Linked DNA regions of Homo sapiens. The protein of the gene in region 3 purifies or fractionates together with the protein of the main gene of each other region. This does not show direct contact. Each region holds a gene or a part of one and is shown on either strand. Other genes may lie near its edges. The genes, in order: DHX32, CCZ1, AFG2B and FMN2.

Region 1 (3,574 bases), on a different chromosome or scaffold from region 3:
AATGGTGTTCTGCTTGTTAGGCAGTAGATGGGGTAAGGAAAACCAGATAACACCTGTGGAATCCAAGGCTGAAGCAGGAGAAAGAAACCTGGTGCCCAGGTAAAGTCTGCTGAAGCCAGCCCAATGTCAGTGGCTGGCTTGCTGCCCCACCCACAGGGCAGGTCGGCTGTTGAGCCCCTGAACAATGAGGAGCTCACCTTTAGAGGGTCCAGTGCTCCGCCTGGGTCACAGAGGCTCAGAATTACAAAATCCTCTGGTAGCTTTCATGGCACTCTCACTTTAAGACTGCAAGACTGATGGTTTCTTAATAGGAATGCCTTTCCAGCCTGCCTTCAGGGGAAATTACATACCTCTCCAAGTCCTGTGGCATTTACAGTTTCTACTACCAGCCTGGATAATGATGCATGTTCTAAAGTTGACAGTTCAAAAGTCACTCTACAATTAATTATAGTTTATATTAAACTTATAAGAATCATGTACTCTAAGACCATCTGCACCTCAGTTCTGTTATGAGCTTTATTTTCCAAGATCCAAAATCCATTTCCAAATCCATTTAGGAATTTTTGCTTACCCTGACTTGAAGGATTACACCCATCCTATCAGTCTTAATTGCATTTTTTTCTTGCAGAAATGTATATCCTGGTTTTTTTTTTTTAATTTTTCATTTTTTTTTTTTTTCTAGAGACAGGGTCTTGCTCTGTCACCCAGGCTGGAGTGCAGTGGTGCAATCATAGCTCACTGCAGCCTCAAACTCCTTAGTTCAAGCAATCCTCCCACCTCAGCTTCCTGAGTAGGTGGGACTACAGGCCTGAGCCACCATGCCTGGCTAATTTTTTAATTTTTTTGTTGAGATAGGGTCCTGCTATGTTGTCAAGGCTGGTCTCAACCTCCTGGCCTCACGTGATCCTCCCGCCTCAGCCTCCCAAAGTGCTGTCATTACAGGTGTGAGCCACAGTGCCCGGCCTACGTCCTGTTTTTCACCTGGCAATTCTGACTCTCAAATATATTAGATTTGCCATTCTTCCCTTCCTTAGGCTTCATCTGTTTACACTGAGAACCTCCAACTGTTTTCATAAATCCTATGTCTCCGTAATCATTTTATTATTTTCCTCAGGACTTTCTTGAATATCTTGAATCATGCAGGATGAGATGATAACAGAATAAATCACTGTAATAGGCAGATTTGCTATTCAAGAGAATGTATATCATATACATACAAAAAATGATAAATATGCAGTCATATTGAGGTTCTAGAAACAGATACATTTAAGAAAACTAAAGTTCCCAAAGCCAGAAGGAGCTGTCATCCTTTATGCTTTGAGTATAAAATAGAATAAATACTTCTGAAAGTGTTTCTGAAATATGTGGATGTTCAAGAAAAGGCTCTGACAGACAGCTGAGCCACTTATCTGTTCAGCTGTGGCTCAGCCTACATCAAATAATTTCCTTTTTGGTTTCTGTTTAATGAGTAGAACCACTACATATATGGGTCATGGTCTAAAAACTCATGCTTCTCCTCTCTGTGGGAGAAGACAGGGAAAAAAGGCCAGGCAATTAGTCTCCATGAAGAGAGGTCTAATTCTGGAGATCCTGGAGGCTTTTAGATTCAGCCAACAGAGTAGTGGGGAAAGAAATAGGGCCAGTGTAGCTGCAATTTAAAAAAAAAATGCAACCCCAAATGGTACCTTGGCTGTCTAAAAGCAGTAACAGAATGGAAATGATGCTTGATTGCACATTTCCAGTCATTCTTTTAAAGAGATGTTTTAAAGAAATCTGAGTTAAAGGTTTTTTTTTTTGTTTGTTTGTTTGTTTTTTTTTTTTTTTTTTAATCTTTTAAGAATGGAGCCCCAGTCCAGGGAGATGACCTTTTCGGGTGGGCTATATTTTCTGCCCATACTCCACTGACTATCACAGGACTGCTTGTGGGAAATGTTGTGTTACTTAACTCTATGGTGAGTGCTTAGGTAATAGTCCTGATCTCCAACAAACACACCTGCTCACAGGGAGGCAGTGGAGAATGTCAGGGGAGTCGGCATGCACCTACTGTACCAAGAGACAATTCACAGCAAGCATAAATAGAGCCAGCTGTGCCTTTGGGGCAGCCACTCTCTGGCCTGAGCCTGCTGGAGGGAAGTTGGCTCTGGAGATCATGTCTAGAGACTCCTCACCCATATTTTGTTTTCAGAACTGCATGTGATTTTAGAAACACTTCCTGTTCTCCTTTCAGCACAGGTTTTATTTAATGAGGTGTGATGAAACCAAATATTTAAACAGTTAATTAGCAAACTGAAACCTGTATGTTAGTTATTAAAAGCTTCCCAAATGAAATACCTTATTACTGTAAGGTTAGAGTATCACTTACTTACTTGTTCACAGGCCAGAAAGACTACAATGTCACCTTTCTCACCCGAGTGGTGAATTTCAAAGATAAGGCGTAAAATAGACTCAAAAGAATCCTTTTGAGCCTCACTAAGGTACACAACCTCCACAGGGTGTTTATTTTTCACTTCTATGACAGGCACGTTTCCATAATAAGAATTGAGTTTGCTGATCAGGTGAGGTGAGGAGTTAATTATGAGCTTCAGTTCTGGTCTTGCTAGTAAAACATCTTTAAGAAGTCCAAGTAACACATCAGTTGCAATGCTTCTTTCATGAATATCATCTAAGATGATGACCCCATAGCTACCCAAAAAAGGATTGGACATCATTTCTCTTTGCAGCATATCATCAGTACAATACCTATAAAGAAGAAACATTAAAGTTAGAATATTCTTATGCTAACTCATGCAAAAAACTTCCTAACAAGAAAAATGCCTTTCCTATATTCATTTCTCTAAATCAGTAACTCTAAATTTTTACTGGGGCCAAAATTCCTTTAAGTTGATACAATCTACAGAATTATAGCACAAAAAAACACAGATAAACAAGATTTATACCCAGTTTGTATATGTTCATGGACTGCCCCCTACAAAGACCATTCTGAACCCTAAGTTAAAGACCTCTGCCTAAATGTTTATTACAAATATTAATAAAAGCCTGCATCTAACTTTTGTTCTGAGCTTTATACATAAAAAGTAGTATCATAAAACACCCTGGTCAATTTTTCCTCTCGAATTCATCAATGAAAGAATTTTGAGTAAAATTATACACTTTTCAAGGAAAGGATACAAGAATAACCATCCTGGCTCAGGCTCATGGTCCTGCTAGCCCACTGTTAGGACAGACACTATTATTGGTGATTCACTGTGAGAGATGATATCATTAAGATGTCATCCAAATAATAAGCAAACAGAAGGATCTAAAAAGTAACCACCTATTTAAGGGCAGCATGAAAACTGGCTAGAATTCCTGGAGTGGGGAGAGGTCATTAGTGATTTTAATGGGCTTTTCCCATACTTCTTGGGATGATTTTTTAAAATTAAAATAACCACCTATTAGTCACTAAGCTTAATGAAAATAACTTTCTGACACTATTTACATATTTACCTGTATTACTGCTTGAAGAAACCAATCCCATTTTTTTTTTTTTTTTTTTTTGAGATAGAGTCTCGCTCTGTCGCCCAGGCTGGAGTGC
Region 2 (2,233 bases), on a different chromosome or scaffold from region 3:
GAGGGGTCAGGATTTTGATCTTACCACATTCACAGTTTAGATCAGGCTTGCATTAACTGATGTTTCTAGTGCGCACAATGACTAACACAGGTATTACTAATAAAGAGAAAAATGTAGTATGCCCAAGATACAAGGGGAAAAAAACGCTTACACTGAATTTCCACACAGTGTACACGTGGGGCATCTCCCAAGGGGGCAGCTCTGCCGAGGTGAGGTCCCCTCTCTCCAGGGCAGCCGAGCTATCAGCACCGCAGCTGCCGGGTCACCCCGTGCAGTGGGCAAGGCTGGCCGCTTTGGCGGGAAGGCAGGAGAAAATGTCTGCCTCCTTCTGCCTGTGTACAGAGGGATACTTGTAAACGGCTACGTGAACCCGGCAGCTTCTCCCTACAAAAGATATGTTTTTATCACAGGATATTAAAAAAGGACATTTTGGGCTGGGCAAGGTGGCTCACGCCTGTAATCCCAGCTCTTTGGGAGGCCAGAGGATCACTTGAGGCCTGGAGTTTGAGCCCAGCCTGTGCGACAGAGCAAGACTCTGTTTCAAAAAAAAAAAAAGAAATTAGCTGGGTCTGGTGACACATGCCTTGGTGATACATGCCTGTGGTCTCAGCTACTCTAGAGGCTGAGGTGGGAGGACTGCTTGATCCTAGGAGTTGGGGGCTGTGGTGAGCTATGATTGCACCACTGCACTCCAGCCTGTGTGACAAAGTGAGAACCTGTCTCCAAAAAAAGGGGGACATTTCTTAATATAAAGTCATTTTTTTTTTTTTTTTAGAATTGTAGAAAATAATTTTCTTTCTGCCATTGCCAAGTTTCCTGTGCTACAGGAAGGTCTTGTCATAGTTTTCCAAGGAACAGAAAATGGATCAAATGTGGAGCAGAGGCACCTGCTTAGAATCTCAACAGTCATGATTTGTTCTATTTACCTATTTTTTAACCATGTTTCTTAATGCAATGAAAAGACAACTTCTCAAATTCTCCTGAAATACCAAATCCTACTTACCATTTACTTCAATCAGGTTTGCATTTTTTTGATTCAAAATAACATAGAGCTCCCGCCGATCAGACTTCTTTCCAACAACCCAGTAATCACTCATGGCCTTCACAATGATCTCCTCATCTTCATCCACTCTGCAAGACGAGGGTCAAAATGCAATCGTTCGTTACTCATACGGCCAGACTGTGAGAATAAGCGTTCCAAACCAAGAACAGGAAATGGAACGGGCGCACGTGGCATTTAAAAGGCTCAGGGAGTGCCGCGCGAGGGAACCGGTGACTTCAGGGCTCCCGGGTCTGTTTGGAAGCGGCGCCCATGAAGGTGGTTCACGCTTGAACCCCATGGAAAGGGCTTGAAGGGATTTTCTGTGTCTTTTCTCGTCTTAGAAAGGGGACGCCTGATTGGAGAAGTGGCTGGAATCACCTGGTAAAGTCACTGTTGATGTCACCGAGAATCTTCATTAAATCCGGGTGCACGGAAGTGAGCGACACGCTGGGCGTTTTCCTCATGTGAACTGTGCTCTTCTCGGCGAGATTCATGTGGTTGAAGTAGATAAACTTAAACTGGGGTTCTTTCTCAGACCTGTGAAAACATGTCACGAAGACAGTAGCACTCGGGCCGGATACAACTAGATTCTTCTTTTAAAATTTTTTTGAGATGGAGTCTTACTGTCGCCCAGGCTGGAGTGCAGTGACACGATCTCGGCTCACTGCAACCTCCGCCTCCCTGGTTCAAGCGATTCTCCTGCCTCAGCCTCCTGAGTAGCTGGGATTACAGGCGCCCGCCACCACGCCCAGCTAATTTTTGTATTTTTAGTAGAGACGGGGTTTCACCATGTTGGCCAGGATGGTCTCGATCTCCTGACCTTGTGATCCACCCGCCTTGGCCTCCCAAAGTGCAGGGATTACAGGCGTGAGCCCCCGCGCCCGGCCCTGGCCCTCTTTTTCTAAACAAAGTTTCACGGGAACCTCGCCATTGCCACATGTTCATGTGTTGTCTGTCTGCTTTCCCACCAAAATGACAGTTGAGTAGTTTTAACACGTATCTACATACAGCCCGTGACATCTGAGATACTTATTATTGGGTCCTTTACCGTAAAAGTCTGCTGACCCCTGCTTGAGGAGAGTAACACCTCGTTCCTCCCACAGTGCGGGGAATGAGTGTCCCGTGGAAATTAACCTGCCTCATGAGGGAAGCCTACGACACTATGTAACGAAGCTTTCCCTCATATCATCC
Region 3 (3,574 bases):
TAAAAGTTTATTCATTTATGAGACAGGGTCTTGCTCTGCTGCCCAGGCTGGAGTGCAGTGGCATTGAGGCAACAGCTCATTGAGCCTCGAACACCTGGGCTCAAGTGATCATTCTATCTCAGCCTCCTGAGCAGCTGGGACTACAGGTGTAAGCCACTGTGCCCAGCCTGAAAGTTTGATGAGGAGCAGGATATCTCAAAGTGTCTCCCCACAGATTTCTCATTAGTGGCAAAGGGAAAAATAGCAGTTCCACAGTGGAGAAACTGCGCACTGCCTGAACTAGTTGATAAAAGTTAGCATCACCAATGAGGAACCAATGTACACTCTGTGCCTCTACATGTGAGGCTCTAAGGACACAACACTATACATCACCATACTGTGGTGACATATGGGAACATTTCTGTTCTTAGGAAATAGACATTAAAATGTTAAGGGATAAAGTGTCATGATATATGCAACCCATTCTCTCAAATAGTCCAAAATAAATAAATACTATGTGCATATAAATACATATATATGGAGATGACAGAGAGAGAGAGAAAGAGAAGAGGAGAGGGAGCAAGGAGAGCAAAAGAGAATGATAAAGCTTATTTGGCAAAAAGTTAAAAATTGGTGAATTTGGATAAAGGGTTTAGTGGAAGTTCTTTGTAACTATCTTGCAACTTTCCTATAAGTTTTAATTATTTCAAAATAAAGACAATAATTTTAGAAGAAATCAAGGTTGAACATCTTTCATGTTTATTGTCATTCCTTTTATTGTCAACTACCTGTTCATACCCCATTACCCATTTTCTCTTGGACTGTTGGTCTTTTCTTACTGATTTGTAAGATTTGTTCATTCCCTATCAAGGAAATTGGACTAAAAGTATTTTTCCTAGTCTGACTACTTTATAGTATTGTTTTGCCACCCCCAAATGGTCAACTCAGCAAATAATCTCTTTTTTGGCTATTAAGGTTTATGTTATGCCTAGAGAAGTCGTCTTCACTCTCAGGTTATATTTTGGAGACTCTTTACATTCTCCTTGATCATTCTAGTGAAACACATTTTTTTTTGTTAGTTAAAAAGTCCTGAAAATTTTATTAAAAATATCTGTACTGTATTTATTAAAGTATTTGCCCTCTTATATCCAATTCTAAACATCTAGTTGTCCACAAATTCCCGTTTTCAAAAACAAACTGTCTTTTCTTATTTGTAAACAGATGTTAAGTGAATCTGTATGTATAGAGCTATTCTGTAAAGTATTCTCCCAAAAGTGTTAACAATTGTCATCTCTGGAAAGTGAGATTTCAGGTAGGCAGTTCTTTATAATTTTCTATCTTCATTTCTCATGAATAACCCTATTATATACTTAAAAAAAAGCCTTTTTAACTGGCTGATAGTATGTTAGGTGTCTGATGTCCAAATATTAACTAATCTTTAGGTAACACGAACTAATATTTGAAAATCTCATTTATAGTTCAAGATCATGTGTGTACACATTATTTTACTTGATTCTTTGGGCTTATACATTCTTTCCCCTCTGTGTGTGTCTGAGTGTTAAACTACAGTTCTAATCCTTTAATAGGAATACTTCACAAAAAGTTTAACAAAGTGTAAGGTATCCCTTATCTGCCCTGGTACAGGGAGAGGTAGCAGCAGCCCCTCAGCTGGTGGGGGAAAGAATAAAAGATGGAGCCAGTACCTTCCCAGTTGTCTGTCCCTTCATGCTTTTTGCCTTTCTTCCTTCCACTTCCCCTGGGTTGTTTCTGAACTCAGCCATCACCTGTGGTAACTACACCTGAGCAGGCCCCTCCTGAAGTAGCAGTGGGCTCCACCCTGGGACGACAGCAGCTGACTGGTCCACCTAAGTGAGAGGTGCTTATGGTCAAACCTGGAACTTCAAAGCAGAGGAAATCCTGAATGTAAATCTCCCTTCCCATCTCCTGCTTACTTATTGTCTCCCTCAAAAGACATCTATTCTCACATCTTTACACACAGAACTTTAAAACTTCAAGTAGTTTTGGTCTAAACCTACAAGATGAAGACTTAAAAGATCAACTAGAAGATCACATAACTCCTCCCCACCTTCGGTGTAACTGTAGAAATAAAGGAAAGGAAGTGAGGCAAGGTATAAATTATTTAGGTAAAAAGGTTTTTCAAAATTTAGGATAATAAATCATTCTTTTGCAGTTTAAGATGAAAAGACAATTTTGATGTTACAAATGAGATTGAAAACTCTGTTTCAGAATCCTTAGCCTGCTGAAATCAGTTTTTTCCTGAATGGGTTTAAGGATTCAGGACTATTTATTATATACAAAATACTGGATTTTACAACCAACAAAGTTGAAAAGTATTATATTTAATCTAATATCTTAAATATTGTTAGGAAATAGTCATGAATTACAGACCTGCAGATCAAGGACAAATTTAAATACAATTCCAAGTGCCCAATCTTCTCCTAGGTTAGAAAAGCTTATTTCTCCCACTAGATACTTATTAATAACAAAGGGAAAAACGGTATCTTGACAATGGAGAAATCTCACAGACACCACCTTAACCAAGAAATCAAAGTTAACTTCACCAGTGATAGAACAGAAACATATCATGTGCTGCCTAACAGATGCAATGAGAAAGACACAGGATCATTTCTATTATATTCCTGCCCAAAATGCAAAACCTGAATTGAATCATGAAGAAACATTAGTCAAACCCAAACTGACGAATATTCCACAGAATAACTGACTCTTAAAAAGTTATGTTTTCATAGAAGAAAGCCTGAAGTATGATTCTAGATTAAGGCCTATTTAGGTTAAGTACAAGTATTATGTCTGCGTTAATTTTCTCAGCTTGATCATCATACTGTGGTTAAGGTCCTTGTTTTTCAGAAATATACACTTACGTTTTCGCGGGTAAAGGGGCATCATGGATGTAGTATATGCTCAAATATTTCATTATATATATGTATATATATAAGGAAATACACATGAAGAGAGAATGATAAAGCAAATGTGGCAAATGTTACATTTGGAGAATCTAGGAGAAGGGTATATGGAAACTCTTTGTACTATTTTTGTAACTTCTAAGTCTGAAATTGCCTCAAAATAAAAAAATTCAAATTAAAAAAACTCTTTGATTCTTCTGGGGCCACACTATTTCTTGGCTGCTCTGGGCTTCAGCACTAGGGAGTTACTATAAGAGTAGGGAACAAATTCACTCAGTAGACCCAGAGGACTCAGCCCTTTATCCCCACCCTCAATCATATACTATTTATATAGAGTTGAGATGTAAAATGTATAAGCAACAGCTGTGGAAGCTATCAAATGTTCTAAGGAAAATGTACTCACCGCTTTTTTTTAACCCCCAAATTAATCTGTTACAATAATAGATTAACATAGATGTTCATAAATTAACACTTCTTACCTTCTCACTATGAAGGAGGGCATGCATGGCAGCCTCCCTACAGAGTGCTGTCAGGTCGGCACCAACATAGCCAACTGTCATTTCTGCAAGAAGGCCCAAATCAACATGACTGGAGATGGGCATCTTCGAGGTAATCACTTGCAGAATTTCCTTTCTTTGTTTAAGTGTGGGAGT
Region 4 (3,574 bases), on a different chromosome or scaffold from region 3:
ATCTGCCTTGGCCTCCCCAAGTGCTAGGAGGCCTATCTTGATTTTTATATCAGTAGAGGGAAGAACCCACTCTAGGAGTACACATTTTCTCATACGGCTTGGTAAATTGCTACATTGGATTTTTTTAAGGCCAGGAGTAGTTTGATTTCCAGCAGAGCCCCTGACAGAGTATAGATGTCCAGTTAATGTCTGACGAATGAAGGTCAGAATCTGCCTGATACGTATAAAATGTCTTATTATAAAAGGAAAGGGGTTTATATGAATGCTATGCTTTCCCCTAAATACTGCCTTACTGGGTTCCATATATCAGAGAAGAATTTGGCGATGTAAGCGGGGACCAGAACACTGATCTTCAATCATTTTAGATGGGTCTGAAACATCCTTTCTCATGGTTTCTTTAGGCCTGTGGTTTGGATTGAAGTCAAGTGCACCAGTAGCTTCAGGGATGGGTTTTAATGACTGCTTTATGAGTTGAGGATGGGCCTAGTTTTAAGAGCTTTAGGCGTTTGGATATAAGCCATGCGTATTTGAAATGGAGCAGGTACTTTTAGTGCTTTTCCTTCTGATTCTTCTGAAAAGATACAGAAAATATACAGTTGGATGAAGGTAGCAGTAGTTATTCTAACTACGTTTATTCTAGGTATATTTGCAATCCTAGTTTTGCTGTTTAGCTAAGTGAGTCTCCAGTAATTTTTCCTCATATCTATGAAGGTAGAAGAATAATTTCAAATTAATACTATTAAGATGAAATGAAATAGCATACATAAAGCCCCTACAATTCTGCCTGGTACATGAGAGGCACTTAACTGGGGCTATTTGCTCTCCTGACTGGATTTATTATCTTAAAAAAAAAGTCATTGTTCAAAGTGATCAGAGCCAAATTTGTTAAAACAACCCTGAAATTGTATACAAAACTTAGCAGGATATGAACTGACCAGATACTAGTTGAGCCCCAGTTTTGTTTTGTTTTGTTTTTTTTTGCAAATTGTTTATGTATTATTTTTTCTTTTTTTTTTCTGGAATTGTAAGCATTTTGTCACTTATCAGATATTCTGTGGTGGGGGGTTGGATAAGAAAAGCATATGATGGGGTGTGGCTGTAAGATTTGGGGGAGGGTGCTGCTTTCCAAAGAAGGGGTGGGAAGAGGAGGCGGTAGCTGACACCCTCAGTGTTTCTGCTCTGCACAGCATCTGGCTGCAAACCCCTGACTTTGCAGCTTTACCTTCCCACGGTCTCCTTCATAAATGCTCTACTTTACACTGTTTTATGAACATGCATTTCATTTTCCCGACTTTGTGCCTTTGTCTTGCAGCTTTACCCTCTTGGAATACATGATTCGTCTCTTTTGCTTTAGCATTTGAAAAGTGCTGATTGAATTCCGTTTCCTCTTTGTATCTTTTCCAGCCAGACCTTACTGGCTGTCATCTCACTTTCTCTGTACTTTACTGTCTAGATCATATTATATATGCTTCTTGGATTTAGGGATTCTTCTGGTCTTCTTTCTTGCCACCCTCTGCCTTTCCTTCCTCCTTGCCTGTTCACCCGATTCCATCCATCCATCATCTCCTCTCCTACTAATCTGTCCACAGATATCTCTTCCGTGCCTTGCTCTGTGCCTGTCAATATGTGTAAAGCACCGACTGTACTGAGGTCTTGATGAATACTTGCTCATTCACCATTTTTGGCAGTGATATAGACAAGTTGAGTATCCAGGCTTCCTACTGGCAATTAAAACTAGTTGAATTGAAGCTGGAAAATTGCTAACCTTTCTGGGCAGTCAAAATTAATTATTTTCAATGAGGTGTGATTGAATCAATGATACTTTATAGAACTTATGTTGATAGAAGAATAGCTATTCTTGTTTCTGCAGGTTAATGTTAAAATAGTAATGACATTACAGCAACTGACCTTCCAAATATAAATGTTATTGTAATGAAAGAAGAGGTAAAGGGAATAGAGAAAATTGTATTCCTCTGTTCATTCCTGTTTTGTATTCTAAGTACTAACCTAATGCTAATAAAAGTTAGCATTAAGGAACCATTAGGAAGAAACAAAAATGTACTGCCTGTGACTTGATAGTTATTAGATATCATTTTAGTGACAGTAGAAACTTTCTAAGGCTTTTTTATCTTAAAATATATGGAAAATATGACCTCAGTCAGTTCGGAATGGTAGTAAAGCAAGGTAGTCATAACATCAAAATTCTAAGAATGAGTAACAATTATTTCTGGATGCTATAATAAGATGCTAACCACACTAGAGATTTATTATCCTTTTGATACCTACTGCTCCACTATGGGTGAGAAGGAGGGAAGAATTTATGTCTTCTTCCTTTGTAAAGATGTACTTGGAAGTGTTGATTGGATAGGAAAATTACTGCCTCTATTCTGTGATCCAGTCAGGCTCCAACCTACCAGGAACCCACTGGAAGCTTTATTATCTGTTACCCTAGAGCTGCAATGGACTGAAAACAGTCCTATTGTTTTCAGGAGGAATGGAATACTTTCTTGAGAAAATCAAGCCTATATTATGTTTCAAAATTATGCTTAAAAAGGCTTAGGCACTACTCAGTTGAGTCTTTTTTTGTACTTCATGCAGAAGGGTTCTTTGTTGTAGTACCTGGTGATAGAGTGGACACATACAGGAAGAAATTCTGTGTCATTTAAATGGTTGTTTTAGGTACGCAGGAGGGGAAAGAATGTGTTTCAGTAAGCTAGTGTCAGCACTATGGGAAGAGTGCAGGCTGAGAACAATCTATTTCCCTTTTCCGTTTTACCACCAGCTTCCTATTAGGGCACAAGGCAATCATTTCTTGCCTCTTGTTAATACCCTGGCTTCCCAGATTGGAAGAGTGAATGCAATCTTGCTGGGAAGCGTCTTCCTTCAAGTCAATTTCAGCACTGTGGTTCTATAGATATGGTGATTCCAGCAGGTACCTTTTCTCCCTAATAGGGATGCTCTGTGTATTTAGAGCTTTCCTTTATTGGTAGAGCTGAAGAAAATTCCTATGCCGGAAGACCCGTTTATACCACGGAGTAATTGATGGTGAGAGTGGTGATGTTTTGACTTTGATAGTTTTGATCAATTTTTGATTCATGCTGAAGGAGATTTGCATTGGTTAGACTGTCATTATCTGACAATAGGACCGTGTGTGTGTGTGTGTATGTGTGTGTGTGCCTGTGTGTCTGTGTTGTGTGTGTGTGTGTTTGAGACAGGGTCATGCTCTGCCACCCAAGCGGGAGCGCAGTGGTGTGCTCATGGCTCACTGCAGCCTCAAACTCCTGGTCCCAAGCAATCCTCCCACCTCAGCACCTCAGCTTCCAGAATAGCTGGGACCACAGGCGTGAGCCACTATGCCTGGCTAATTTTTTTTTTTTTTTTTTGGAGAGACAGGGTCTCACTATGTTACCCAGGCTGGTCTCGATAGGGCCTTGTGTTTTTGAACACTGATATAATGATTATGTATGATGGTTGATCGTGTGTTATGAAAATGTATGAAATGGAAAGCTATGTTATATAATGTATGGCTCGAAGATTTAGAATATATGAAGGCTTTCTAATATTGGCACAAAAT

Evidence for each region.
Region 1: the proteins of AFG2B (region 3) and DHX32 purify together in Homo sapiens (affinity purification with mass spectrometry; 2 studies listed by BioGRID and IntAct, with this or other methods). This does not show direct contact.
Region 2: the proteins of AFG2B (region 3) and CCZ1 purify together in Homo sapiens (affinity purification with mass spectrometry; 2 studies listed by BioGRID and IntAct, with this or other methods). This does not show direct contact.
Region 4: the proteins of AFG2B (region 3) and FMN2 purify together in Homo sapiens (affinity purification with mass spectrometry; 2 studies listed by BioGRID and IntAct, with this or other methods). This does not show direct contact.

What each region holds. Positions count from the first base shown.
Region 1 is NC_000010.11:125,857,237-125,860,810, forward strand, and holds part of DHX32 (putative pre-mRNA-splicing factor ATP-dependent RNA helicase DHX32), read right to left. Parts: intron 2,740-3,574; coding exon 2,367-2,739; intron 1-2,366.
Region 2 is NC_000007.14:5,922,733-5,924,965, reverse strand, and holds part of CCZ1 (vacuolar fusion protein CCZ1 homolog), read right to left. Parts: intron 1,580-2,233; coding exon 1,421-1,579; intron 1,132-1,420; coding exon 1,004-1,131; intron 1-1,003. UniProt on the Homo sapiens protein: Acts in concert with MON1A, as a guanine exchange factor (GEF) for RAB7, promotes the exchange of GDP to GTP, converting it from an inactive GDP-bound form into an active GTP-bound form.
Region 3 is NC_000015.10:45,405,332-45,408,905, reverse strand, and holds part of AFG2B (ATPase family gene 2 protein homolog B), read right to left. Parts: coding exon 3,401-3,574; exon of another isoform or gene 3,394-3,400; intron 1,878-3,393; exon of another isoform or gene 1,683-1,877; intron 1-1,682. UniProt on the Homo sapiens protein: ATP-dependent chaperone part of the 55LCC heterohexameric ATPase complex which is chromatin-associated and promotes replisome proteostasis to maintain replication fork progression and genome stability.
Region 4 is NC_000001.11:240,098,345-240,101,918, forward strand, and holds part of FMN2 (formin-2), read left to right. Parts: intron 1-3,574. UniProt on the Homo sapiens protein: Actin-binding protein that is involved in actin cytoskeleton assembly and reorganization. Acts as an actin nucleation factor and promotes assembly of actin filaments together with SPIRE1 and SPIRE2.